7 separate regions of the Homo sapiens genome follow, and all the other regions are linked to region 1. Evidence: fine-mapped expression QTL. A gene starts in region 1. Each other region holds a variant in brackets. All regions are shown on one strand. Distances are from middle to middle. Region 1 holds the start of GRIK4 (glutamate ionotropic receptor kainate type subunit 4). Region 2 overlaps GRIK4 (glutamate ionotropic receptor kainate type subunit 4). Region 3 overlaps GRIK4 (glutamate ionotropic receptor kainate type subunit 4). Region 4 overlaps GRIK4 (glutamate ionotropic receptor kainate type subunit 4). Region 5 overlaps GRIK4 (glutamate ionotropic receptor kainate type subunit 4). Region 6 overlaps GRIK4 (glutamate ionotropic receptor kainate type subunit 4). Region 7 overlaps GRIK4 (glutamate ionotropic receptor kainate type subunit 4).

The links. PIP is the estimated chance that this variant, and not a neighbour inherited with it, causes the effect.
Region 2: its variant is the best candidate, but not a certain one, in a credible set for the expression of GRIK4 in whole blood (INTERVAL, PIP 0.81).
Region 3: its variant is the best candidate, but not a certain one, in a credible set for the expression of GRIK4 in lung (TOPMed, PIP 0.72).
Region 4: its variant is the best candidate, but not a certain one, in a credible set for the expression of GRIK4 in thyroid (GTEx, PIP 0.63).
Region 5: its variant is the best candidate, but not a certain one, in a credible set for the expression of GRIK4 in sun-exposed skin (GTEx, PIP 0.85).
Region 6: its variant is the best candidate, but not a certain one, in a credible set for the expression of GRIK4 in skin (TwinsUK, PIP 0.69).
Region 7: its variant is the best candidate, but not a certain one, in a credible set for the expression of GRIK4 in tibial nerve (GTEx, PIP 0.63).

What each region holds. Positions count from the first base shown.
Region 1 is chr11:120,510,156-120,514,155 of GRCh38, reverse strand. It overlaps GRIK4 (glutamate ionotropic receptor kainate type subunit 4), which reads right to left and starts at 2,408. Exons shown (of 21, transcript NM_014619.5): 1 at 2,269-2,408. RefSeq lists silencers at 2,338-2,537, 2,718-2,797.
Region 2 is chr11:120,856,228-120,860,227 of GRCh38, reverse strand. All of the region lies in intron 8 of GRIK4 (glutamate ionotropic receptor kainate type subunit 4), which reads right to left. Among named protein-coding and RNA genes, the nearest start is that of TBCEL, 170 kb to the left of the region's middle. The variant A/G (reference allele first, on the strand shown) is at 2,021.
Region 3 is chr11:120,621,128-120,625,127 of GRCh38, reverse strand. All of the region lies in intron 1 of GRIK4 (glutamate ionotropic receptor kainate type subunit 4), which reads right to left. Among named protein-coding and RNA genes, the nearest start is that of GRIK4, 110 kb to the right of the region's middle. The variant T/C (reference allele first, on the strand shown) is at 2,477.
Region 4 is chr11:120,597,095-120,601,094 of GRCh38, reverse strand. The region is part of intron 1 of GRIK4 (glutamate ionotropic receptor kainate type subunit 4); the gene reads right to left. Among named protein-coding and RNA genes, the nearest start is that of GRIK4, 87 kb to the right of the region's middle. The variant C/G (reference allele first, on the strand shown) is at 2,300.
Region 5 is chr11:120,739,616-120,743,615 of GRCh38, reverse strand. The region is part of intron 3 of GRIK4 (glutamate ionotropic receptor kainate type subunit 4); the gene reads right to left. Among named protein-coding and RNA genes, the nearest start is that of GRIK4, 230 kb to the right of the region's middle. The variant C/A (reference allele first, on the strand shown) is at 2,102.
Region 6 is chr11:120,734,162-120,738,161 of GRCh38, reverse strand. The region is part of intron 3 of GRIK4 (glutamate ionotropic receptor kainate type subunit 4); the gene reads right to left. Among named protein-coding and RNA genes, the nearest start is that of GRIK4, 220 kb to the right of the region's middle. The variant T/CAGTGCGT (reference allele first, on the strand shown) is at 1,713.
Region 7 is chr11:120,562,376-120,566,375 of GRCh38, reverse strand. The region is part of intron 1 of GRIK4 (glutamate ionotropic receptor kainate type subunit 4); the gene reads right to left. Among named protein-coding and RNA genes, the nearest start is that of GRIK4, 53 kb to the right of the region's middle. RefSeq lists enhancers at 668-1,247, 1,248-1,828 and a silencer at 1,379-1,648. The variant T/G (reference allele first, on the strand shown) is at 2,061.

The sequences.
Region 1 (4,000 bases):
GCTTCCGCCTCGCTGCTTCTCTTGCCTTCTGAGCAGTCTCTCCCCCAACCCAGGGCCGGTCCCCCTGTCCTCCCTTCCATCTCTGGATGGCTGAGAACCACCTCAGAAGCAGCTGAGCTCCTCTCTCCTGGATGCCCTGACTCCCTGCAGCTGGGACTTTCTCCTAGAGTCTCTGCCTCTCTCCCGGTACTAAAGTTCCCTCTCCATCCTAAGGGAAAACCAAAGTGGAAATCAGACCACGAAGCCGACCCAGGCTCTCGGAAGAATTTTCATTGCTGGGGAAGACAGCAGCCACCGATCAAGATGCCCAGGTAGGGGGATGGGAAAAACACAGAAAACCAAGATCCCCTCTCAACCTCCCCTCCCGAGCATCCACCTCTTCCCCACCCGGAGGGACCAGTGCTGCCTCTGGGTTTCAGGTGGCAGGTCCAGAGGAGGACAGAGGGGTGGAGCTGGTGAGGCAGGCGGGAGGCTGGTGGGCAAGCCCGGGCCACAAGGAATGAACAAAATATGGAAAATTAAACAAACCCAGACACTGTAATGTGTGCATATTAGATTAACTCTCCGAAGGGTCGTGACCTTGAGGAACACATCTGGCCAGTGAGAAAAATAATAAACCTGATTAATGATGAAGCCTGAGCTGCAGCTTCAGCAAATAAAGCCAGCATGATGACGCCCAGTGGAATTCCAGGGGCTGCCATCCCTGGTGGGACCGGAACACAGTGGACCTCGACAAGCCCCTCGCCCCTGACCACGCGAGCACAGACAGTCAGGGAGTCAGGCAGGACCGGATTTGTCTCTCAGATGCCCACTACCAACCCAGGCGGCCTCTCTCCCCGGAGATACCACGCCCGCAGTTTCCCGGTGCTCCTAGAAGTGTCACTACCAACCAGGTGACCCATAGGGAGTGAAAGTGAAGGTAGTTCTTTGTTCCTGGCAGGGCTCAGTCCTCCTGACCAGCCCTCAGACCTCTTGGCCTGGTCTTGACAGCTGCCCACTGCCTGGCAAAAGGGCCCAGCTGTGCTCAGAGCTCCCCTCCTCTTCCCAGACAACCCAGACCCTTGGGAGACATGCCCAGGAGAGCCACTGGAGGGAGGCAGGGAGGTGGCACCGCGTGGCATCACCAGACAACAGCACCAAGAGGAAGATGGCAGCATCAAGTACAGATGCCAAGAGCCACGCAGCCCAAGGTCCAGCCCGGGAGTGGCTCGGCCCGCATTGCCCCACCACTGCCAGGCAGACGGGCCAGAGGCGCCCGGGGCCCAGCCCCCTCGGCCGCCTCCTCCACCACCCCAAGGCCCTCAGCCAACTCTCCCCAGGCTCCAACTCCTCCCCTCACTTTGCTCAGCTCAAGGGAGCCAGGGAAAGAGACACAGGTGCTCTCAGTGCCTTGAACCCCCTGTCCCAGCTGTCGCCTGCACGCCCTCCACCCCAGCCAGGTCGGAGCGCACAGCTCTGCCAGTCCTCACTGAAGAGAATCTAAATCAGCTCCCCTCCCCCTCCGCCCCAGCCCCCTCCCCCATCACGCGCCCATTGCAGGTCTCTAGAGTTTCTCCCTCACTTCCCACTCGGATGAACTAGGGTGGGATGGGTGGGAGCCCCATTCTCCCCGGGAAAGAGGATCATTTCTGATAGGACGCTGGTTCCCCCAAGCAAGGCGGTGTGCAGGGTGGGGGGGTGTGGTGGTGGCCCGAGTCCAGTGCAGGGGCAGGGGGCAGTCGAGGCAGATGGCAGTGAGGAAAGGGGGAGGGGGCTTGGTGGGATGCCAGGCTGAGCCGGGATGGGGGGCTGCAGCCGGGGAACAGAGGCGCTGGGAGAAGCGGAGGGTGACGAGGTGTAGGGGAGACGCGCCAGGCTGGGAAGGGGCTGTCATCCCTGCAGGGGACAGAGGCAGGGCTGGGAGTTGCACGGGGAGGGGGAGGACCAGAGCGGGAGGACCGCGAGCCCGGGGAAGGGATGCGGAGGGAGGGAGACGGACCGGGGTGAAGACTGGAGGAACTACGGGAGCAGAGCGGTGGGGGGTTCGGCGGCGAATCTGGAGACGCAGGGACCGAAGTGCCAGGGACCGGGCTGGCGGGAGGCGGGAGCGGGGAGGAGGGCGCGGGGGCGGGGGCCGGGGCAGGGGTGCGGGGCCGCGGCCCCCGAGGGCAGGAGCGGCGGAGACGTCAGAAGTCGGGGTGCGGGAAGGGCCAGCGCGGAGGGGACTCGGGGGCGCGGGGGCAGCGCAGGGAGCGGGCCGGGGGCGCCGCGGGGGGCCGCTGCCCTTACCTGGTCGGCTCCGCACTCCGGGGGCTGAGCCGGGGGCCGGGCGCTGCCGGGCCGGCCGCGGGGCTGCTGTTGGCCGTTTTTCCTCTTCCGCAGCAGCCGTGGCGGCTCCAGCCCGATCCGCCCGCAGCTGAAGGCAGTCTGTGTCCGGCTGCGAGCGAGCCCGGCGCGGGGAGCGCGGGAGGAGCGCAGCGAGGCGCGGGGCGCCGCCCGGCGGGCAGCTGGGGAACTGCTGCGGCCCCGCGCACGGCCGGCCGGGGGGGCGCCCCTTCGGGGCCGGGCCGGAGCCCCGCGGGCAGCTGCACGCGCCCCCCAGCGCCCCTCGGAGCGTCGCCCGGGAGCCCAGGCGCGGGGGCGGCGGGGGCGGCGGGAACGGCGGGGGCTGCTGCGGGCAGGGCGGGCGCGGGTCCGCGCGGCCGGGGGCAAACTTGCGGCTGCCCGGGGGCCCGGGGCCGAGCGAGAGGCGCCCGGCTGGGGAGCGGCGCCCGGCAGAGGCTAGGGGCGCGCGGCCAAGCGGGCTCTGCGAGGTACGGACCTCAGGTGGGGAACCCGGCGCAGCCCGCACACTCCACCGCCCTGCGCAAAGGGGCAGCCCGCCCCGGCCCCGAGGAGTTATTAGCCCGGCGGCTTCAGCGAGCAAGGGGCGCCCCCTGGTGGCATTCGGGAAACAGCGCGGGGGACGAGCGTGCCCCGTTAGAAGAGACTGCGGCCTCAGTGGTGCGGAAGATGGAGAGGTGGAGGTTTCATGGGACGAGACAAGAGCACCTTGTTCAGGAGACTGAAGAGCAACAGCTTGCATGGAGTCATTCCAGAGCACTGTTGTATACATACCAACATCTTGGGAGGATCTCATGTTACGCATGAAGATCCTGAGGCTAGGAGAGGTGAAGGGACCAGGCCAAGAACACACGGGGAGCAAGTGGCAGGACCCAGGAGGCAACCCCGCTTTCTGACGCGCGGTTCATTTCAGTACACCGTGTGGTTCATCCTAATACAACAGAGTTGCCCTTAGGAGGAGGCTGGGTGAAGAGGGAGTCCTGGGGGAATAGGAGGGAGGGCAAGGGACACGTGACCCCCTCAAACCTATTAGCTCCCTCTTATCCAACCCGCAGAGTCTCTGTCTTGGGCAGACCACCAAACTGATCACACCGGCCCTCTCACCTTCAATGGCCTGTATCCCCACACCCAACCACCAGCACTCCCACAATCTCATTAAGCTCTCTGTGAAGGGTTTGTTCACAGACGTCCTTGGTCAGGTCTCACGCATGAGGCATACTATCGGGACTATAGACTGTTCTGGACGTTGCATTCCCCGGGGAGGGCTGGCTGGCTAGCCTGGGCGCGTACTGGGCCTCCTGCTTCAGGAGTCGTGCCTATCCCTCCCCCAGCTCCACACACTGGCTGGATGAATGCCATATGCGAACAGGGCTCCATTCCTCCAGCCAGACATTATTTAGCACCTACTGTTTGCCAAGACTATACCGCTTACACAAGTGTGATTCCCAATAATCAACTTTGCAAGGTAGGTGTTGAGGTGACACTAGTCCCATTTTACAGAGGATGTTAAACCTGTTAAGGTTTAAGAGCACCTGTAAGCCAGTGACACAAAACTAATTTCTAATTCCAACTCTATTCCCCCACTCTGGAACCCCCTCTCTTGTGCAAAATGGACGGAACAGCAGCATAAGCCTAGCAGAAAGTGTACGGGGCTGGGAGGAGGGAGAGGCATCCCTGT
Region 2 (4,000 bases), 350 kb before region 1:
AATCACATTCATTTCATGTTCATTCCAAGTGCCTTGCACACAGATCCACACCCTGGGGGTACACAGGACTTCCAGACCCTAGGACTAGCCCGTCAGCCACTCAGCCTGACATGACAGATGGCAAGTGCCTTAGGCTTTCCTTCTGGCCAGGAAGAAAGATTGCTTTCCTCCAGGCAGTCTCCTCTTCTGAAGACTTAGCTGCTGTAGGCCCCTGGCGCCACCCTTGCATCCTTGCCACACAGCTCCAGACACTGCCAAGGCCTCAGGCTACAGGCCTCAGCTCACCTACCCAGAGCCCAGCTTCATTAGCTTACACGTGCAAACTGGAGGTACCAAGCTTCCTTTGAAGCCACCAATGCCTGACAGAGTGGATTTGGATAAGGTTTAAGTGTATTTTGGATCCTGCCACATTCCCATTAGGGGAAAAAGGACATGCCAGAGAATGTATTGATTCCTACACTGATATTATCTCCTATCTCTCTAACAGGGCAGCTGCCCATGTGCTGTGGGCTATCGGTAGGCACAAGGGGGCAGATGGCTAATGGAAGAAGATGCATTTGGCAAGGGTGCAGGGACTGGGGCAGAGCCAGACTGTTGTGGGCAAACCAAGGGGCCTGGCTGGGCATGGTTGGCAGGGGCTGGAAAATGTCCTCTTCCCTGGCTTCCTTATCATTGTGGGCAGACACATCAGCCCAACTCCATCCTCTCCCCACACACAGAGCCCGATGGATGAAGGCTCATTTTAAGGAAGCCCTGAGGCTCTGGATGTCCACAGATTCACAGTGGCAGCTGGGGTGATATAGTGGATTCAGGCTTTGGTGTTCAAATCCAGGTTCCTTACCATACTGGCTGTTTGACTTTCGGCAAGGTCTGTAACCTTCTGGGCTTCAGATCCTTGTTTTTTAAAAAGAAACAATATTAGCAACCTTATAGGTTATTTCAAGAAACAAGTAAGATGCATGTAAAGCTTAGCCTCCTATTTGGCAAATACGACAGCTACTGAAAGACCACCGTGAAATCTGGGGTAGCTTCTGGCTTTCTGCCTCTTCAGTTCCACAAGTTAGAAAGGTATTCCCTTCAAATGCATGTTCTGGGCGGAGTAAGAATGAATGAGTTAATTACAGACACTTAGAGACAGTCTACCCAGAAGTCAGCCAGTCTGTCTTCCTGCCTTTTTATTCCTACCTTCTTGTCCCACAATTCTATGCAACTTTCAAAGGCCTCTTAAGATAAAAAGATTCCAGAAGCTTCCTTGATAATTCATTCTATTTATAATGACTCATGGGATAGCCTGTGGAAGGACAAGGAAGGGGGAGGGGCACATTCTTTTACTGCCATTTCCCACGACACTCTAAGGTTCTAGTATCTAAGAATCCTTACAGTTAGGAAATTCTCCTTTTTATCTAAACTTAAGACTTTCCTGCTGCTATTGAAGACTATTGTCTAAAAGAATATGGGAAATAACTGACCACCGTTAGTTTACAAACAATGAACATCTTATGTGCCAGTATTTATCAAAGTGTGTTCCTCAGGGCATTAGGTTTCCAGGTGACACCAACAGAAATTTCATGAAGACAAGGTTCCATGCTCAGATAAGGCTGGAAAACAATGCATATTATATCTGCCTTTTCAAGATTCGTAATAATCACTAGCATATTAAAGGCTGAAAAGAGTCCAGCAGTGAAGCAGCTGGTTTAATTTTGTTTAACCCTGAACTTCCCAAACACACTGACCATGGAACAAAGCAGGACTATGGGTTTTTTTTTCTCCTCCAAAATCCATGAGTGCCTGGCAGTGGCGTGCTTCAGAACGCAATCTGGGAAATGCTACTCTACATCTATTCAGAGAAACATTTCTTAGAAATCCAAAGTCAAGTGGTGGAGACATTTTGCGGAGAGAGATATTTCATAAAACGAACACATTTCAGGAATGGAAGGGATTAAAGTTCACCCAGTTTCCGCTGCCCACCCATCTTGAGCCCTACCTAAGAATGCACACCTGGCTCACTTAGGCTCCCATT[A/G]TGCCTCCCCAACCCCGCCCCAGCCACACTGCCTGGCTGGTTGTAACCTTCATACAATGACAGAAAGGAACAGTCCCTCGGGTGGAACAGGTTCTCATGGGGACCTTGATCCTCTTCTTATAAATATCCCAGGAAGGGATATCCTGAGGGTCCCTGCTCCCAACAGGAATCGACTCCCATTGTCCCAAACCAGGGAATGAGGGTGAAGAACAGAGCAAATGGGACCTGGTAAAGCCAAGTGGTGGGGCAGAGACCAGGACCAGGTCTTCCACTACTCCAAGTGTGGGTGGCTTTGTGATGGACCCCATGTTGCATTGTTTGTTCACACATGTGGTCTCTCTCTACAGGGGGCTGTGTGTTTCCAGGAAGCAAAGATATGTCTGCCTCATTTTTGAAGTTCACACTGCATCTAGAGAGTGCTTGGTACCTAAAAGCTGTTTGGTCAACGCTGTTTTGAGGACAGTTGATTGAAGACATCTTAATGCCTTGGGGTCTCACTGTGGCCAACTCTAACACCAAGCACACCCTGTCACACCTCCAGAAGGTGTAAAAACATGAGTAGAAGCTGTGCTAACCACTGACTGTCCTCTGTGAATTGCATTATTGTATTTTTTTTTTAAATCCTGACAGCTTGCTTTATCATCACTGGGCTTTCACATGAAAAACATTTTTAAAAGTGTGTGTGTGTGTGTGTGTGTGTGTGTGCATGTGTGCATACATGTGTGCAAATCTTTGTGTATACAATGGTATGTAAGGGTCCAAATAGCTATAGTTGAAGGTCAGGTCAGAGCCACAAGTGGATACGGGCAGATGTTACCCTGAGATGAAGGAATGCTTCACGGATAATGGCTTGAGAGCTACGTGGAAGGGCGCCCCTCACTTTCTGCAGCAGACGTGCCATGTCCAATGTCCTGGTTTACAAACAGGCATCCATTCACTGCAAGCTGCAGGAAGCTTTATGGGTCTACAGCCTGTTCATCGCCTGGGCCAGGGAGCAAGGACAGGCTCTGAGTGGGGGCTGAGTTGGGCATGGCCCCAGACAGGTGGAGGTCCTAGAGCTCAGGTAGTTTTGTTGGAGGATGAGAGGAAGAGAGGGTCTGGGAAACTGTGAGATTACCATGGCTGCAAGGGGCCGACCATGCCTTATACCACACAGGGTCCAGTGCCAAGAAATGTAGAGCTTTAGTGTCTGGTGTCTGGGAACATGGAGGGATAAGGGAAAGGTTGGGCAGACCTTGTGGGCAGCTTCTGCAAGGGAGGTCTAGGGGAAGCAGGGCCCCGGGGACATGTTCAGCTGGGCTAAGCAGGCAAGTCCCATCACTGGGGGTGGGATTTAGTCAATCCTGAGGACAGGACCAGGTTAGTCAACTACAGCTAAAAGCACAAGAACTTTTAATGGCCCAGATTGTTTCTGAGTTTGACCTTAAGTAGAAAAGCAAGAAACCAAAGCACAGGTCCAGGTGGTACCCTTAAATCAAGTTCATCTCCTAACCCAGGTCAAATGGGTAAGCAGGGGAAGTGGCATTCCGTGATGTTTTCTGCCCAACAGCCCCTTCCCCTTTGCCTTCCTAACCAATAAGGGCATTACTATTCTCCCAGGCACCTAAGCTAGAAACTTCAGAGACAGCCTCAACTCCCTTATTTCTTAACTCCACACCCAGTCAACTGCCAATTCTGTCAAATCTATCTCTTAAATGTCTCTCGAAGTTGTCCCTTCCTTTCCAACCCCTCCAGGTTAGGTCCTCGTCATTTCTCCTCTGCAATAGCTGCTATTTAATGGAGATCGTGCCTCTGATCTTAGGATACCTAGCCACTATGCTGTTCAATTCCCAGGTGCCATTTATACTGATGACCATGTGAATGGTGCCCCTTGGTGCCACATTGTGCAATGTGGCAATCTCATCAGGAAACAGTAGCATGTATTAGAAAGAGCACAAGTTTTGAAATAAGACAGTCCTGGTTTCAAACCCTCATTTGGCC
Region 3 (4,000 bases), 110 kb before region 1:
AATTTTTGTAGTTTTAGTAGAGACGGGGTTTTACCATGTTGGCCTCTAACTCCTGGCCTCAAGTGATCCACCTACCTTAGCCTCCCAAAGTGCTCAGATTACAGGCGTGAGCCACCGCGCCCGGCCTTAAGTCTTATTTTTACATGTTTATTTAAAATGAGGCGCATGATTGCTAGTCTATAATTTTCATACCAGGTGCGTTTCATCTTCTCTAGGTCTCTCTTAAATCTCTTAAATCTGCACCCCATCCCCCCAAGATAATCAAATACATGAAGGTGTCTTTATTTCTGTGTAGCTTTCTATACTTTCCTTTCCTGGAGCAGCAGGCAGGGAGAGAAGCTGAAGGGCAGAAGGTGAGGTGGGAGCTGTTTCACAGCCCTGGAAGAAAGAAATGAGGATCTACGCTAATGGAGGAAGAGGAAGAACAGGTTGAGAGCAATTCCCAAGGTGCTCTAGAGAATGCCCAGACTCCGCGGCAGGGTACGAGATGAAGTGTCTGTCTTGCAATTGTGTCTTGCAGAGGACTTCACCCACTTTCTTCCCTCGGTGCCAGCTGACTCTGGGCAGGGTGCTGAGAGAACAAGGGGTGGCCAGCAAGGAGGGGCAAGCAGGACAGCCCTCTAGGAGCACCTACAGCTACTCAGAGTAGAGAGTGGCTATGGGACAAGGAGGAGGCCAAAGGGGATGGGATAGCCACCAAAGAAAAATTCAGCTAGAGCCTAGCTTTGGGGCCAGGACCTCTACATCTGGTTACAGGGAGGGGGCACCAATGGAGGTCCCAACACTACTCAGATATTTCTGCCCCATGGGGCCCCATGGGGAAGGTCCAGCAAGGCCTAGACAGTCCGCTCTTGAGCTCTCTATTGGGGTGGCCCCTGCCAAACCCCAAGGGGACCTCAAGAGCCCTTGGTGAGAGGTTAAAGTAGTGTGATGAGATGTTTAGATTTCAACATAATTATTGCTATAACAGTTTAATCACTTAAAAACACTATCTTGTGTTACTCTAATGAAGAGAGAGGCTCTTTTCCATATTGTTTATGCCATCTGTGAGCAATTTTCACATTAGCCTCTTAGAATGGCAAAATGAAGTCCAGGCAGTGATGGAGAGAGGCAGGGCGGAAAGGGGAGGAGGAAGAGGGAGAGGGAGGAGGAAGAGGGAAGGGGGAGGAAGAAGAGTAAGGGGGAAGAGGAGGAGGAGGAGGAACGGGGAGGGCCCAGAGAGAAGCAGGGTGCCACGGAGGGCAGCAGGAGCTCTGAGGGCCCCTGGATGGGACGCAGGCTGCATGGTGCAGGCCCCATGTGTGCAGACCCCATCCTGCCACCATGGAGGAGCCAGTGGATGAACACGTGACCCTGCCTTTGAGGGTACCTCACTTTCTGATGGGAAGGAATTTCCTAAATTTATGAAGAAAGTAAAGAAAGACAAAATAGCCCAGGACAGTGATTTTCAAACTATGGGTCACAACCCATAAGTAGGTCCGTGAAATCAATTTAGTAGATTGTAATCAGTGTTTTTCTTTAATGAAATAGAAGAGAATGGAAAATAACAGAAATGTCATTTCCTACTGAAAGAAATCAGGGTGACTTGGAGGAATTCCTGGTTGGGGGTCAGGAACACACAAGCCTGTGACATCTTGTGTCAGAGAGCATGGGCTTGTTCACAGACCGATGGGGTCACACCTAAAGAGTACAGGGGGCCGGGTGCGGTGGTTCACACCTGTAATCCCAGTACTTTGGGAGTCCAAGGCGGGAGGATCACTTGAGCCCAGGAGGCCAAGACCAGCCTGGCAAACATAACAAGACCCCATACTCTACAAAAAAATAAAAATAAAAAATTAGCTGAGTGTAGCCCCAGCTACTTGGAGGCTGAGCGGGGAGGATCACCTGAGCCCAGGAGAATGAGGGTGCAGTGAGCTATGATCACACCACTGCACTCCAGCCTGGGCAACAGAGCAAGACCCTGTCTGAAAAATAAAATAAAATTTAAAAGAGTACAGGGGCTGGCTCCAAGGGGTTCCCACAGGCCAAAGATGGGACAATTTGAGATGCAAAAAGAATAGTTAGGAGAACTGACTGAAATACACTGAATCTGTAAAAATTCACAAGTCCATAAATGTAGTGGGTTAAAAGGCGACCCACATGACCTAACTCCCAGAACCTCTGGATGTTACCTTGCATGGCAAAAGATGTGATTAAGTCAAAGGATCCTGAGAGGAGGAGCACACTGGGTTATCAGGGGGGCCCTAAGTAAACCACATGTATCCGTAGGACAGACACACAGAGAAGAGGAGGGGGCAGCGTGACCACAGAGGCAGAGACTGCAGCAAAGACCAGCTAAAGCCACCAGATGCTGCAAGAGGCACAGAACGCATTCTCCCTAGGGCCTTTGGCGGGAGCACAGCCCTGCTGACAACTTGATTGCAGACTTCTGGCCTCCAGAATTGTGAAAGAATAAATGTCTGCTGTTTTAAGCCAC[T/C]TGGCTTCCGGTCATTTGTTACCACAGCCACAGGAAACTAATACAATAATGACACTCCCAAAAGAGAAAGCCAAAAGCAAAGAAAATAAGAACTATCAGGGCATGCAGTACAAAGTATTTCCATTTGATATGCATATATCTGTGGACAATCAGGGTTAGGCTTGGAAAAGTATTTCTTGCTGTGAGTCTTGCTCAAAAACATGAGAAAAGTCTGCCCAGTGGTTAAAGGCATGGCTTTGAAGTCAAACTACCCAGATAAGTGTCTCACTTCTGCCCCCTAAAGGCAGTGTGACCTGGGGCAAGTCACTTACCCTCTCTAAGCCTCCTGTCTGTGTCTGAAAAATGGGGGTAGTAATAGTACCTAGTTCATGGGGTTGTTGTGAAAATTAAATGTACCACATCCCAGTGTTGGTGGTGGTTGCACATTTGTCACAGTTAAAAATAATAATAAGGCCGGGGGCGGTGCTTCACGCCTGTAATCCCAGCACTTTGGGAGGCCGAGGTGGGTGGATCACCTGAGGTCAGGAGTTTGAGATCAGCCTGGCCAACATGGCAAAACTCCGTCTCTACTAAAAATACAAAAATTAACTGGGTGTGGTGGCGGGGGCCTGTAGTCACAGCTACTCGGGAGGCTGAGGCAGGAGAATCGCTTGAACCCAGGAGGTGGAGGTTGCAATGAGCTGAGATTGCACCACCGGACTCCAGCTTGGGCGACAGAGTGAGACTCTGTCTCAAAAAAACAAAAATTAAAACAATAATAATAATAATAAATGACATATATAAAGACAAGCACAAGCTATACCCCATACCCATGTTAATCATTACAAAGACCCCCTTGTACTGCCGCTGCAGCTGAGAAGTCTCTACGGATGACAGTATGTCAAAACTGACTAAAATCATGCAATTAAGTGCCTTCACTTTAGAAAGGAAGAAAATAAGGCCCAAAGAACTGTGACTTGGCAAGTTTACATAGTTAGTACATGCTTGAGATAAGACTAGACTCCATCTTGGAACTCCCAGTCTAAGGTGAAAGCACACTAACCCAACTCCCATAGTCTTTCATAAGCCCCTGAGGATGCCAGGACCTTCACTCTTTCTGGCTCCTGATGGCCCAGACCCTCCCTTGCCTCACTGCCAGGGCTCTGGGGAAGTCTTCTTTGTGTCTACCTCACAGAAAATCCCTTAGCTGCAAGTTGATGAGCTGGGAGGGGGTTTCTGTTACAACGAGTTTCCTTGCACTAAACAAGCTTACACTATCCTATTATTACCTGTTCAAATGATTTAGATATTTCTCCCTGACAGCTCCAAGTGCCTGATTCCCTGATCTTCTCTAGCAGGGGGCCTTGCAGGCCTTCAAACACTCAGCTGATTGGAGAAAATGGACTGTGTGAAAGGCTTAACTAAGGAGAAGGTTGTCAAGATCATCCACCGACCCTGCAGACTCACCGTGCCCACCCCAAGCAGCCTTCCTGACCTTACCCAAGACTCAGCATGAACGTGTTCCTTTCTTACTTCACAGAGGCT
Region 4 (4,000 bases), 87 kb before region 1:
TGGGTGCTGTAATAGTTCTCATGAGTTTTGCTTGTTTGTTTGTGACAAGGTCTCACTCTGTCACCAGGCTAGAGTGCAGTGGCACGATCCGGCTCACTACAGCTTCCATCTCCCCAGGCTCAAGTGATCCTCCCACTCAGCCTCCTGAATAGCTGGAACTACAGGCGCATGCCACCACACCTTTTTGTATTTTTTGTAGGGATGGGATCTCAGTATGTTGCCCAGGCTGGTCTCAAACTCCTGGCCTCAAGTGATTTGCCTGCCTCAGCCTCCCAAAGTGCTAGGATTACAGGCATGAGCCACCATGCCCAGCCTCTCATGAGTTCTTAATCTTTTTGAAGGTCACTGACCTCTTTGAGAATCAGAACAAAGCTACAGATTTACCCCTTCCAATTTCACTTTCCATGCATATTTGTGATGCTGCCTGTAATGCCAGGGACTCCCAGAACCCCTGAAGATCTTCCTGGTGGGGAGAGGGTCCCCAGACCCCTGCCTCTGCACTCCTGGCTAGGATCTCCTCCAGTCCTGACTGTGGGAGGAAAACAAAGACCAGCATCCCTCCTCAGCCCTCTGTTCAAAGAGCAGAACAAAAACCAGGTGGGCTTTGCTGGGAGGCCCAGAGAGCAGGAACCCCATTTCCCTGAGTTAGCCTCAGGCACTGCCTCTGAAAGGCTGCCATTCAGGCAGCCAAAGCTGATTTGACATTTGTTTAATTCGCAGGAAAACTCTAGTTTTCTTTTTTTTTAAGACAGAGGGGGGAAAAACTCCCATAAAACCTCTTACTCTCTTGCCCTAATGGGACCCATAAAGGCTGACAGTGCACCAGGAATCAGCCACGCTGAGAAGCCGGAAGCCTGGTGGGTGGAGGTACCCTCCCGCTGTGGGAGGAGCAGCTTTAAGAGTCTCATTTTTCTGCAGGCCTTAGGGGCTCCCACATTGAAGGTCTCACCTTTCCCTTTCCCCAAACACACCTGAATCAGGGCTGCCAGCACTACTCTCCCTGGAACCTTCCACCCAAGGGCTTCGGCCACCTGCAGAGTGGGCGGATGGCAAGGTCGCTTCTAGAGCTTTTCTGATGCGCCAGGCCCCATGCTAGGTGCTCATGCCAGCATGAGAAAGCGTCAAACCTAAAACCAGCCTCTAATGTTCAAACATACTCTGGCTGCAAGAGACACCAAAAGCCTTTCTTTCACCTTTATGTCACGGGCTCTGGGGCAGGGGTTCCCTTGTGCTGAGTTTGACTTGCTCCTTGCTCGGGTGAGTCACCCAAGAAGGCTGAGCTTGGGGACAAGGCCCAAGGTGTTTGTAGCTCCTACTGCCTTTTCTCTCCCTGCTGAAAGGAGAGTTTCAGGGCAACCTGGAACTGAGGCCCACACCCCAGGAATACCCAAAGCTGGCAGCCTTGAAACTGGTTTTCACAAACCTCTGATCAAAGTACTTTCTGCACTGAAAACGGGGCACTATATCCCTGGAAGCACAAGAGGGAGGCTAGGGGGCTGAGAATACAGTAGCAGAGATGGAGCTGGCAAGACATCTAGAGACTCCATCACTGACTCATTCTTCTGAACCGTTCCTTCCTTCAAAGGGCCTAAAACCCTCTGGTCTTCATCTCCCAGATAACGGCGGAAACTCTGTTAAGTCCAGGTGGAGAAACCAGGGCATGCTGTGAGCCTGAGAAGAGGGCAGGCATGGGGCACCAATGTCCCCTCCTCCATCCCTGGAGCCTCAAGCCCAGAACAGGGACCTTCCCCACCACCAACTCCAAACATGCACTCCAGGTTCATCTGCAGCAGCTGGTCCAGGGAAATATTAATAACAATCATGAAAGGTAATGACTAGTTGTGAGAACAAGGATCAATTCAAAAGGGAAGTTGTGTTTTCACATTCTCTGCGTGTTTAAAAAACAGCAACACACGCATCAAACAAACAAAATGAGGCATCTGTCTGGCACAGCCTCGTGATATCCCGTCCAGATGTGGAAGCTCAGTAAGCCCCCTCTCCACACCCTTAGTTTACAGGACCAGGAGCTGTGAAATGGCCTTTGAAGAGTGGGTGTTACCCTTTGCAGTAACGCAGAATGACCACAAAGCCTTCCTCGTTCCTGCAGGCACACCCCTTCAAATGGGGCTTCTTGGCCCCTCCCATCAAGAGAAGGAGTCCATTATCCATCCCTTGAGTCTGGACTTGGACATATGACTTCCTTTGGCCAACCGGACATTAACAGACATGAAATAACAGAGGATGTAAAAAGTACTTAGGCATCAGGCTTCCCTCTTCTGCAAGATAGACAGGGTCCAAG[C/G]CAGCTCAGTTACTTTCAAAGAGGAAGAATGGATATCTACATCTACATGGACATGGAGAATGTGTGAGGAAGAGGTCAGGCCTGGGCGAGCCTCTTGGAAGATAAGAGGCCATGTGGTCCTTGCCACAGCTGATACTGAGGGAGGCCATCCCAGTTCCTGCAGCCCCAGACAACCTGGCCAAGACCAAAGGAGCCATCTAGCCAAACACAGAGCCATCAATAATAGTCAAGTTCATTGTCTTGAGCCACTAAGTTTTGGGGAGATTTGTCATATGGTGGGAGTTAACCACTATACCGTGCCATTCTCTGTCAAGGAAAAGAACTGGTTGGCTCCTCAGGGGGTGGGCAGGTTCCACCACGCAGGCCAGGAAATGTCCCTGGAGCCGATGGAGAAAGACCACAAACTCTGCACTGGAGGTTGAATTCAAACCACCGTTCTGCTACCTGCTATCCAGATGACCTTGGGCAAGACACTAACTCTGTGAGCCTCAGTTTCCTCATCTGCACAAGGGGCACAGCAAGCCGTTTCATAACGCTGCTGTGAGAAAGAAATGAGAGAATGGATGGAAAAAGTCGGATGCACAGCAAGGGCTCAACAGATGCTTGTGTCTCTTTTTTAATCAGTCAAATTCGATGGTCAAGGCATCTTCCACCTTGATTCCAGAAGAGTGGAAAGAACAGAAGGGGCCCAGACCAGCTCCAACTGCGAGGCCAAGGGAGCGCAGGAGGGGAAGTCTGTTGTTAAAACAGCCGCTTGGCTCTGTCGCTGAGGCACTTAGTTTTTAATCTCTCTGAGGAAAGAGACGTTTCATCCAACATTCACCGCATCAGCAACTCTCTAAGTAAAATGCAGAAAACATGACGTCTTTATTCATTCCATCAAGCAGTAATTAGGGCTCGGAACAGGAGTCTTCAACGGCAGGCACTCCCGCTCCTGAAAGTCAGGCAGGTTTCTAATTGGGCTGGAGAACAACTTTGGGGAGATCTCACAGAGGTCGCTAAAAGGGACTCATCCACAGTCACAATTTCCCTTTCGCTTTCAGATGCTTAGAGAAAAATTCGAATGCTGCACTGTATTAGGAAATCAGACAAAGCGGGGGGCTGCACTGAACAGGCAGCACGCATGGCCCACCACCTCAGGACCCCCACGGATCCCTGAATGCAAACACTCTGGCAAAGCGCACGGCTGAGGCAGCCAAGTAAGACTGAGAGGCAATTTGCTTTTTGTTCTTTAAAAAGAATCAGCTAGAGAAATTGCCTTTATGTGACACTGAGACTCTGCTGCCTGCCACGGGGCTCAGCTGGGGGCGCCCGGGGCTCGGTCAGAGAACAGGTCAGATCTTCACCTGTTGGGTAGTCAGCCAAGGAGGGAGAGGAAGGAGAGGGAACTGGCAACTGCCCAGCTCCCACCGTGTGCAGCCCCAAGAGGGGTGCTTTGCATACATGATCTCACTGCATCCTCCCCAGAACCCTCTGCGGGAAACATCATCTCCTCATCATGGTGGGAAGGCACTTGCCCCGTCACCCAGCAGGTAAGGAGCAGAACCAGATTGGAACCCAGGTGGAGAGGGAGCGGCCCCGCAAGGTGAGTGGAGCTGCCTCTGGCATCCAGGGGCCCAAGAACAAAGCTACCTGGGGCTGCCCTGGCATGAAGCTGTCATGTTCCCAGCTCTGGGAGCAGCCGTTGACTAAGCCAGGGGT
Region 5 (4,000 bases), 230 kb before region 1:
TCTATTATACAAAAACTTTTCTTTTTTAAAAAAAACTTTTATTCTAGGTTTGGAGGTACACATGAAGGCTCGTTACATAAGTAAACTCACATAACAGGGATTTGTTGTGCAGATTACTTCATCACCCAGGTATTAAGCCCAGTACCCAAGAGTTATCTTTTCCACTCCTCTCCCTTCTCCTACCTTCCACCCTCAAGTAGACCCCTGTGTCTGATATTTCCTTCTTTGTGTTCATAACTTCTCATCATTTAGCTCCCACTTAAAAATAAGAACATATAGTATTTGATTTTCTGTTCCTGCATTTGTTTGCTGAGCATAATGGCCTCCAGTTCCATCCATGTTCCTGCAAAAGACATAATCTCATTCTTTTTTTTTTTTTTTTCTCTGAGACAGAGTCTTGCTCTGTCACCCAGGCTGGAGTGCAGTGGCGTCATCTCTGCTCACTGCAGCCTCCGCCTCCTGGGTTCAAGCAATTCTCCTACCTCAGCCTCCCGAGTAGCTGGGATTACAGGCACCCGCCACCACACCTGACAATTTTTGTATTTTCAGTACAGACGGGGTTTCACCATGTTGGCCAGGCTGGTCTCGAACTCCTGACCTCATGATCCACCTGCCTTGGCCTCCCAAAGTGCTGGGATTATAGGTGTGAGCCACCATGCCCAGCCAATCTCATTCTTTTTATGGCTGCACAGTATTCCATGGTGTATATGTACCACATTTTCTTCATCTAATCTGTCATTGATGGGCATTTAGGTTGATCCCATGTCTTTGCTGTAGTGAATAGTGCTGCAATGAACATTCACATGCATGTGTCTTTATGGTAGAATGATTTCTATTTCTCTGGGTATATACCCAGTAATGGGATTGTTGAGTAAAATGGTAATTCTGCTTTTAGCTCTTTGTGGAAATGCCATACTGCTTTCCACAATGGTTGAACTAATTTACACTCCCACTAACGGTATATAAGTGTTCCCTTTTCTCTGCAACCTCGACAGCATCTGCTATTTTTTGACTTTTTAATAATAGCCATTCTTAGCACCACTGCAGTCCGGCCTGGGCGAAAGAGCAAGACTCCATCTCAAAAAAAAATAATAATAATAATAATAATAATAGCCATTCTGAAACGTGTGAGATGGTATCTCGTGGTTTTGATTTACATTTCTCTAAAGATCACTGATATTGAGCTTTTTTTTTCATATGCTTGTTGGCTGCATGTATATCTTCTTTTGAAGTGTCCATGTCCTTTGCCCACTTTTTTTTTTTTTTTTTTGAAACGGAGTCTTGCTCTGTGGCCCAGACTGGAGTACACTGGCGCAAACTCGGCTCACTGCAACCTCCACCTCCCAGGTTCAAGCGATTCTCATGCCTCAGCCTCCCAAGTGACTGGGACTAAAGGCACACACCAACATGCCCGGCTAACTTTTGTATTTTTAGTAGAGACGGGGTTTCCCCATGTTGGCCAGGCTGGTCTTGAACTCCTGGCCTCAGGTGATCCACCAACCTCAGCCTCTCAAAATGCTGGGATTACAGGCATGAGCCACCATGCCCGGACTATGGGGTTGTTTTTCTTTTGTAAATTTGACCAAACCTTTCCTTAATTCCTGAGATGTGAGCCCAGTCTCCAAATTCCCAGATCATATTTGTTCCTCTGTGTCCCCATATTGCTGCAGCTACCCTAGAGCCATTGCATATTCACAGATCTATGTCTCCTCTTAGCCAGAGAATTCCCCCAGGGCAGAGACTGCATCTTACCCCACAGGGGCCCACTGGGCTTTGCTGGTCGGAATGAATGAATGAAGAGCAGGGTAATGACAATTGGTTGATGTGAGTGTGTCTGTGCTTGCCTGTGCATGTATGCGTGCATGTATACTGATATCCATGAATGAAAACAGAAGGCATTTTATATTTAACCTGAAAAGTTAAGATACCCTGTGGGGCACTCACATGAATAGAAGGCCGCCTGAGGAAGGAAATCTACACATTTGCTATTTTTGCAGAAAGGCAGCATTGCACAGTGTGGTTAAGAGCACATTGCCAGGGCCAGGCATGGTGGCTCATGCCTGTAATCCCAGCACTTTGGGAGGCTGAGGCGGGCGGATCA[C/A]GAGGTCAAGAGATCTAGACCATCCTGGCTAAAATGTTGAAACCCCATCTCTACTAAAAAATACAAAAATTAGCTGGGCGTGGTGGTGCGTGCCTGTAGTCCCAGCTACTTGGGAGGCTGAGGCAGGAGAATCGCTTGAACCTGGGAGGTGGAGGTTGCAGTAAGTCAAGGTCGCACCGCTGCACTCCAGCCTGGGTGACAGTGAGACTCCGTCTCAAAAAAAAAAAAAAAAAAAAAAAGAAAGCACACGGCCTGTTCTGCCACTTCTCAGCTGTGTAAACTGAGGCCAGTTTCTTAACTTCTTTCTCTGTGTCTCTAATTCCTCAATTGTAAAGTGGAGGATATTGTGAGTGGTAAATGAGTTAATGCATGCAGGGGCTCAGAAAGACCCCTGACACCTGGTAAATTCTCAGTGCTAGCAATTACACGAACGAGAGAGACAGCACAGCAGTGGGGTTCTGGAGCAGGTGCCAGAAACTTGCCCCTCACACACACTATCCACAGCTTTACTGAGGCCCCTCCTCCCTTAGGTCCCTGGTCCAGCCGGAAGACCCCAGAAATGTGAGGTAGGGTTGGACACTCAGTGCAGTCTCAGATCTTGCGTCAAATAAAACCAAATAAACATGCCTCGTCTCTATGGTAAGGTGAGAATGACCCAGGAGAGGGCCCATAATAAAGCATTATGCAGATACATGGCCAGGAGAAGGGTGGGAGAGGCCATTGTACTTTACAGGTACACTAACTGAGGCACTCACGGGAGGTGGATTGACTGATGGGCAAGAGAAGCAAAGGGACAATGCTCCCATTCCTCACTAGTCACTCAGCTCCATGGGAGCACAGAGACTGGGGTAAACTCCTCTGGACCAAACCAGGGAGACCAGGATCCCAGGCAGATGCCAGAGATAGTTCCTCCCAAGTTACCAGGCAATGCTGGATCACTTCCTGGCAGTTCACCTCCCCTCTGCCAGCTGGGGCCCTATATGGGTGGAGTGCATGATGAGGCATGATGCTCAGAGTCCCAGCTGGGACAGGGCCACGGGACAGCTCTGGGTAATGTGGGGTCAGCAGGTTCCTGTGGGGATGCTTCAGTCCCTATCCTTTCTCTAGCTGAAGGCTCTGCCACTCATGCGGGGGTGAGGGAAGGAGGGGCTGGGAGCTACTGCCACCGCAAAAGGCTGGCTGTGATTGTCTAGCTTCTGCTGGTTTTCACATCAACAGCAGGTGCATGGCCGGCATATGACTTTCCCAGCAGCCTAACTACAACCCCATGCTATGCTCAGGTATAACAGTTGTCGATTGTAGAGTACAGCCAGGCTCAGGCATTTTATTAAAATTCTTGAAGTGGAGAGTAGGCTCAGAAGGGAAGGAGAGTCAATCTACACCTATGTGATGCCAAACATCTGATTAAATCTGCAAAAGTTCAGCCAATTGTCCATGTAGTCCACATCCCAAGCTGTTCCGTGTAATGCAAACCAGCCATCTGTGTTTCCCAAACACAGCCTTTGGCCACCAGATGGGCTGCCCTGGTGGATGAGGTTGGGGCATGTGAGGTCAGCTGGCTGGAGTGCAGTCCTAGGGCAAGGGTAATGGGTTTGGTCTGTGTGTGATCTTGTTAGTGGACTCTGTTTGGAGCCACAAAAGTCACCTCTGGTTTAGGCCCGCCCTCTGGATATTAGACAGATGTGTGATTGTACCAGATCAGCGTAAATTATCACAAATGCTAGAAACTGCATATGCATACTGACACTGAGCATCGTCACCTGAGGACAGAAAGTCCGAGACACACACTCACCCCTAGATCTTGGGACTCCAAAGTGCCCCGTATTGCAATGCAGAATTTTGCTCTGATAGGTATATGTTGAAATAAGAGATGTCTAAACATGTTGTCTCAGAGAAACA
Region 6 (4,000 bases), 220 kb before region 1:
CTGATATCTCATTCATCTGTTCCTTTATAGCTACCACTTTGTTTTCTTGCCTCCGTGGCGGCTCCCTCTCAATCTCCTCTTACCAGACGTTCAAACATTGGAGTGCCCCCAAGGCTCAGTCCTGGGCTGTCTGCCCTATCTATCCTCTCTCCCAAATGAAATTATCCATTCCCAAGGCTTTAAATTCCGCTTATGTTTTCATCACTTTTTCTGGTTTTGATTTTTTTACCTGTTTATTGTAAAATAAAACATAGATACAGAAAACCACACACACAATATAAATGGTTTACTGAATCATTATAAGGTGAACACCTCATAATAACTATGCAGGTTAAGATATAGAAATTTGCCAACCACCCAGAAAGCCCCCCATGTCCTCATCCCAACCGTAGCCTCTACCTCCTCTCCAAAAGTAACAACTTCCCTGACTTTTAGAGTAATCACTTCCTTGTGGTTTTTTTTCTTTTATGATTTATCACCCAAGTGCATTCCTAGACACTAGTCTTGCCTAGTTTTTGAAACTTTATGTCTTCTAACTCTCTTTTAATTTACGGATTCCTCCTTCATCTCTTTCCTTTCCTTACAATTTATTTGTTCGTTTGCCCAATGGAATTTCTCCCAGTCTGGATTCTGTGGCCTGCATACTTCCGTGCAGTTCAACACGTTGAACTGTCTCTGTATTCTTGAAATTGACAGCTGGATTCTGAGGCTTGATCAGGCTCAAGTTCTATTCTTTTAGCCAAAGCTATGCACTTCATTAGGAACACACAATGCCTGCTTTTTGCTCTGTTTTTAGTATTAGCAGCTATTGGTGCTCAATGTCTAATGTCTAGACTTTGGATCCATAAATCATTTAGATTTCATTTATCAGCTAGAATAATTTTATGCAGAGATGCTGCCCCTCATTTATTATTTGGTTATTCAAATAATACATTCAAATAGTAGTGACAAGAAAAGTGCTCATTTCCTGTATTTACTCAGTTTTCAAGATAAAGTGGTTCCCGGCCATCCTCAGGAGATAACCAATTAGATAATTTTTAAAATGGCATTATGAACTCATGAGTATAAATATACTAGACCATGTCTAAACATCGGTTCCAATCCATTGCAACGACTATCCTTATTAAAGCTCAAGTTGTCATCTTCGGCTAGTGGGAATCCTCTTACGTTGGCTTCTAAGTCCTTTTACATGACCTATTCCAGGCTTATATTGTACATCTTCTGCCCAGACCTGGGATCAGCCATTTCTCCAAGATGCCCTGCCTTCTTTCAATGGGAAATGGTATATCACAACCACATCTGGGGATAAGAGGCTCATTGTATTTCTTGGTCATACTTTCTAGGCCTTTTTCAGTGAACAGAGGTGGGCAGGGTGAGGGGAGAGAGAGAGAGAGAGAGAGAATATATGTAATTAAAAATTCAAATTCAAGTCCAGATCTACAACCTTACCTCTTCTATACAACTATGTATTTCCATTCTTTTGAACTGAGAACTCTGGTCCTCAAGAACACAGAAATAATAGAATTAGAATTAGAATGAACCATAATTATTCTAATTATTCATTTGCTTTATCCTACATTATACATCCAACAGCCTCAGAATAACAATAACAATACTAATACCACTACCAGTAAATTATGATTACCAAAACAGTGTAAAATGTCTTAGGCTAGTTCTGATGCTGTGCTGGGCTTAGAGCCAGTGGACTGGAG[T/CAGTGCGT]GACCTAGGTAGACACCAGTCGAAGTGACCAAGGGAGTGCTTGGTCCCCCAACCCCACTCAGCACAGCTGGCAGCAACAAAAGTGACTCCTTCCTTCTGCTTGAGGACAGAAGAGAGAAGAGTAAAGACAACTTTGTCTTGCATCTTAGTTACCAGCTCAGCCACAGTAGGATAGGACTCTGGGCAGAGTCATGAGGTCCCCATTCCCGGCCCTGGCTCCCAGATATTTCTAGACACACCGTGGCCCAGAAGGGAACCTGCTACCTTGAAGGGAAGGACCCAGTCCTGGCAGGACTCATCACCTGCTGACTAAAGAGCCCTTGGGCCCTGAATAACCAACAGTGATACCCAGGGAATACAGACCATGGGCCTTGGGTGAGACTCTAAGATGTACTGGCTTCAGTTACTAGCTCGGCCACAGGAGGATAGAGCACCAAACAGGCTCTTGGGATCCCTGAGTCCAGGCCTAGGCTCTTGGACAGAATTTCTGGACCTGCCCTGGGACAGAAGGGAGCTAACTGGCCCTAGGATTGTGTCCCAGACCTGGCAGTATTCACCACAAGCTGACTGAGATGTCCTTGCGCCTTAAGGGAACATTAGCAGTGGTCTGGCAGAACTCCCCATGGGCCAGTGGTGGTGGAGGCCATGAGGAAAGGCTCCTCTGCCTGTGGAAAGGAGAGGGAAGAGTGGGAAGGACTTTGTGCCAGCTTAGCCACAGAAGAATAGAACACCAGGTAGATTTCTAAGGCTTTTTTTTTCACTCCAATCCCTGGCTCCCAGACAGTATCTATAGACCCACTTTGGGCCTGGGGGAACTTGTCGCCTTGAAAGAAAGGATGCAAACCTGGCTGGCTTTGCTACCTGCTGATTGTAGAGCCCTAGGGCCTTGATCAAACATAGGTGGTAACCAGGTACTGGTTACAGTGGGCCTTGGGTGAGACCCAGTGCTGTGTTGGCTTCAGGCATGACCCAGGGCAATTTGAGTGGTGGTGGCCATAGGGGTGCTTCCATCACCCCACCCCCAGCTCCAGGTGGCTAAGCACAGAGAGAGAAATATGCCATTTGTTTGAGAGAAACTAAGGGAAGAGAACAAGAGTCTCTGCCTAGTAATCCAGATAATTCCTCTGGATCTTACCCAAGACCACTAAGGTGGTAACTCTGTGAGTCTGCAAGAGCCACAGCATTACTAGGCTTGGGGCCCAAGTCCCTTTGAATACCCGGAAAGTCTTCCCAAGAAGAATAACACAGATTGCGAAGTCCAAATTGTGAAGACTACGATAAACACCTAACTGCTCAATGCCCAACATTGACAAACATCTACAAGCATCAAGACCAGCCAGGAAAACATGACCTCAGCAAAGGAACTAAATAAGGCACGAGGGACCAATCCTGGAGAAACAGATATGTGACCTTTCAAAACGAGAATTCAAAATAGCTGTGTTGAGGAAACTCAAAGAAATTCAAGATAATAGAGAAAAGGATTTCAGAATTCTATCAGATAAATTTAACAAAGGGATTGAAATAATTAAAAAGAATCAAGCAGGAATTATATACTTCTTGGGGTCCCTGAGTCCAGGCCTAGGTTCTTTTTGCATTTGAAAAATGCAATTGATATACTGAGGAATGCATCAGAGTCTCTTAACAGCAGAATTGATCAACCAGAAGGAGGAATTAGTGAGCCTGAAGACAGGCTATTTGAAAATACACAGACAGAGGAGAAAAAAGAATGAAACATGCCTACAAGATCTAGAAAGTAGCTTCAAAAGGGCAAACCTGAGTTATTGGCCTTAAAGATGAGGTAGAGAAATAGACAGGGGTAGAAAGTTTATTCAAAGGGATAATATCAGAGAACTTCCCAAACCTAGAGAAAGATATCAATATCCAAGTACAAGAAGGTTATAGAACACAAAGCAAATTTAACCTGAACCAGACTACCTCAAGACATTTAGTAATCAAACTCCCAAAAGTCAGAAATAAAGAAAGGATCCTAAAAGCAGCAAGAGAACAGAAACAAATAATATACAACTGAGCTCCAATATGTCTGGCAGCAGACTTTTCAGTGGAAACCTTACAGGTTAGGGGAGAATGGCATGACATATTTAAAGTACTGAAGGAAAAAAACTTTTACCCTAGAATAATATATTCAGTGAAAATATCCTTCAAGCATAAAGGAGAAATAAAAACTTTCCCAGACAAACAAAAGCTGAGAGATTTCATCAATCATCAGACCTCTCCTACAAAAAAATGCTAAAGGTAGTTCTTCATTCTGAAAGAAAAGAACGTTAATG
Region 7 (4,000 bases), 52 kb before region 1:
GAAGGAATTTGAAGTCTGGCCTCCTTTCTCAGTCACTTCCTGGCTGGATGACCCTGGACAGGGTGCCTAACGTCTCTGGACTCCAGTTACTTCCTCTGAAAAGCAGAATAAAGAATATCTTGCCTAGATCAGAAGATCTCTGGAAATCCCTTACAGCTCATAGAGCTACAACTGTTCACTAAACGGCCTCTACAAATGAAGAATTTTTTGCCTTTTCATTTGTCAAATAAAATCTGAGGCCTAGGGTAATAGGCAAAGAACAGGCTTTAAAGTGCAAAGCACAAATCCAGGCTGCCATTTACTGTATCTTGGATATAAAACTTAACCTCTGTGGGCCTGGCTCAGATTTTTATCCTAGAGACAATGACGCCTACTTTCAACACGGCTCAAGGGGTAGGAAACATAGCATCATCCTTCCAGCCTAATACCAAAGTCACACCCCAAGCCCAGAATAACCACGTGTGTCTCAACTCTTTCTCCTAGATTTCCTGTCTTGCTTTTCACTCTCTATAGGAAAAGATGGTTTTGTCCATTCCCTGGCAACTAACGTGCTATTAGTTAAGTTTTCTCATGTGGCCAGGTATTACCTCTGAATTATAAGTGGAAAGACTGAGATGTAGAAAAGAGCCAGGGGGCAGGAGTAATTAGTGAGGCAAAGCCTGCAGCCAGACCCTGTATTTCTACTCCGGTCTCATTAACCGTGAGCGCTGCCGGGCGCTGGAGGCCCCCTTCTCCTACCTGTCGTCCTTCCTCACTCGGCTGTGTTCTGTTGTACCTCGTACAATATTGGATCTGTAAAACGCTTTATATTCCTTTAGCCAACACAGGGATGATTCAGAACAAGATTGGGTTATTACAAATTCAGGAGGCACTACACACACGGCTGTCATGTTTCAGTTACCCTTTCTCCCGGTTTAATAAAATTTGCCACACTAATACAAAGCCATCTTTTATCGTTTTCCCTGCAGTTGTAACAACTTGTCCAGCGCATTCCTGCTAATTAAAGGAGGAGAGGATGCAGCAGCTCACTGGAAAGTGGGCTTCTAGGGAGGCTGTCAGTATCTTTGCAGCCACTTAGCTCTGGTTCTTAGAGTCCTTTAATCGCCGGCTCCTCCATGACATGAGGCCTAATGAGGTCAGCAGCCGGTGGCGACATGGCAGGCAGTCCCGCGTGGCGGCGGCCGGGACAGCTGGGCGCGCTGGCAGGAGAGCAGGCACAGCGCTCCCCACAGGCAGGATGACGCGGGCTCCGCAGCCCGTCCTCCCACGCTGCCCCGCATCACTGCCTCGGCCCTGACGTGCGTGCGACAGACTCACCGCAAACAGTCCCCAGCGGGAGCACGAGGCCGGGACAGGAGGTGGGCGGCTACACAGGACACCCCACCCCCCCCACCCCCCCGCAGCCGGCGGAGCCGATCGCCGGAAAAGGGAGGCGGTGGGCGAAAGGAAAGCGGGGAGCTGGGAGAGGAGCTGTAAACAAAGAGCTGCCCTTGTGCGAAGTCCTGAGCCGGGTCCAGTCAGCCCGCTTCCTGTGGCCCACGCACTGCCCGCCGGCCCACGCGGGAGCCTCGAGGGGCGAGGCGGAGGCTGGGCGCAGTCCTTGCAGCCAGCAGCCACCTCCGCGCGCTCCGCCGCGGTCCAGCTAATTACCTGCTGCGGCGGCGGCCGTGCCCTTTAGGGTGCATTAGTATTCCCGCCGCGGGCGCTGCCCTCGCGGCGTCGGCACCGATGCCCGGCCACCTCCAGGCCCGAACGACTGCGGCTGCGGGAAGGCGGGTCGAGGGGGGCTACGGCACCCCAGGGAGAGGCCGGGAGCCGCCCGGACCTCGGAGGGGATGGGGTCCTCTCTGGGAGGCACCCGTCTCCTTCCTGGGTCCTAAGACCCTTCCCAGCCCTGCGCTCCGACCCCACTCCTCCCGAAACGTCGGGGAATCGGGAAAGGAGGGCCACGGGCAAAGCGGGGGCGGGCGCCCCCTGATTAGCATGCGGCGCCGGTTGCCCGGGCCCGGATTCCCGAGCCCCCTCCCCGCGAGCGCACACTAATAAGTTTACAAATGGAA[T/G]CCGGTGGCGCCGCTTGCAATAAAAGGCAGAAGCTGCGCTCCGGCGCTTCAATGAGAGCATTTTCCCCCGTAACAAGGGGCTGGATTCAGCTGCCTGGTGCCGTCTGAGCGGGGCGAGTTGCCAGAGTAACCAAGGCCTAGCGCGCACGTGGGGAGAGGGAGCTGGCTGGGGCTCCAGCGCTAGCCGCCGCCTGCGCGCCCGGGCCCTTCCTCAGGCCACCAGCCACTCCTCCGGGACATTGCCTCCCCCACCCCAACTTCCCCACTACATAAACTGCCTCCCTACCCACCCCCTAACCTTTCAAAGGCTCTCCGGCAGCTTGTGTTAAATTCATGAGACACACCGGGAACACCTCCTCCGCGATGGGAAAATAATGTTTAGGCCTGGAGTGTCACTGGAGAGGGGGCCCAGACGGTGACTGTGCTCAGAGCGGGCGTGGAGGCACAACCGACCCCAGGTGTGGGAGGCGCCAGAACTGGTGCAAACAGCAGTGAAACAGCAGGTGGAGATTCCAGAGCCCTGGGTAGCTCAGGAGGTAGGCTTCTGAATGACCTGGGGAAGGGTGGAGGGGAATTCAGAGCCAACTAACCCTGAGTGCCACATCTAACTTCCTGAGAGGAGGCTCCAAGGACGGGAGCTCCAGAAGTTCCTGGGGTCTAGCAGCTGCGGGGAGACCAGCTGGACCGTGAGCAAAGCACCCATCTATCCCACCTGTAACACAGGGCTGGCTGCTGCTGCCTTCTCCCAGCCTTTGGCCTAGGTTGGTTTAAAAAAAACGAGTTCAAAAGCTGAACCCGCTTTTGGTCTTCAGCTCTCAAAAGTTCACATTTTGCTCCAGAAAGTTAAGGCTGCTGTCCACCCTACTTCCTTCCCAGGGACCAAAAATATAGGGATTGTTTCTCTCTTTTTACAAGCTTGTCACTGGGCACAGGGTTCTTCCAGGCCCCAGAAGTTGTTCTCTGGAGCCCAGAGAAGCTGGATCCCATAGTTCCTCTCCTGAAGCTAGGCTGAGGGCTGCTAGGCAGCCGCCTTCCAAGTGGCCACATGCTAGTATCCTAGGAGATGTACACCCAAACACAGTGCTTACCGGCCAAGCAATCCCTATCCCACATGGACAAAGAGGCTGATACTAGACACTGCGAGTATGTCTAATAGAGAAAGAGCCCACTTCCTCTGCAACTGACAAAAGAAGGGAGCTGATTCCCGGGTTTTACCCAGGGAGACAGTGAAGTGGAAAGACACACTTCACCATCCCCGTTCTGGAAGCTGGGCAAGCTGGGTGCCAGCCTGCATGACTGACATCTCGGCAGTCACATACATCCACAGCCCACTGGACGTCATGCTTCCGCAGAAGGCCAAAATAGGGTCCCCCACTGCCACCAGGCAGCTGGACCCTGCAGAAGAGGGCTGGCTGCCCATTCTGATCCCCTGACCTGGCTCCTCCCTTTTCCACACGATACCCCCCATGCCCAATCATCACTAAGTCCTGTGGGTTCTACCTTCTAGAAAGTCTCTCAAATTAGTCCAAGCTGCACACATTTCTCACTAGCACTGCCCTACCACCACCAGAGGATCTCAACCTGTTCCCTTTTGTGTAAATCTCCCCAGCCATTTCCTGGCACCCTTAGCCTGGTATACAAGGCCCCCCATGAACTGATCACTGTCACGTCTCCAGCTTCTTCTCTCCCCTTGTACCCTGGCTCCAGCCTGCTTGCCATGACCCAAACACAAATCCTCACTTACTTCTGTGTGTGCAAGCTCTTCCCCAGCCCCCACCAGCCTCACAATACCCTAACTCCCCTTCTTCCTCTGGTTGGTTCCTTTACATCCTTCTAGGCTCAGCTCAGGCATCACCTCCTCCAGGAAGCCCTCCCCAGCTCCCTGCCATCCATCTGAGACTAAGTTAGCCTCCCAAATACACTTACCTGCTCCTTCACTA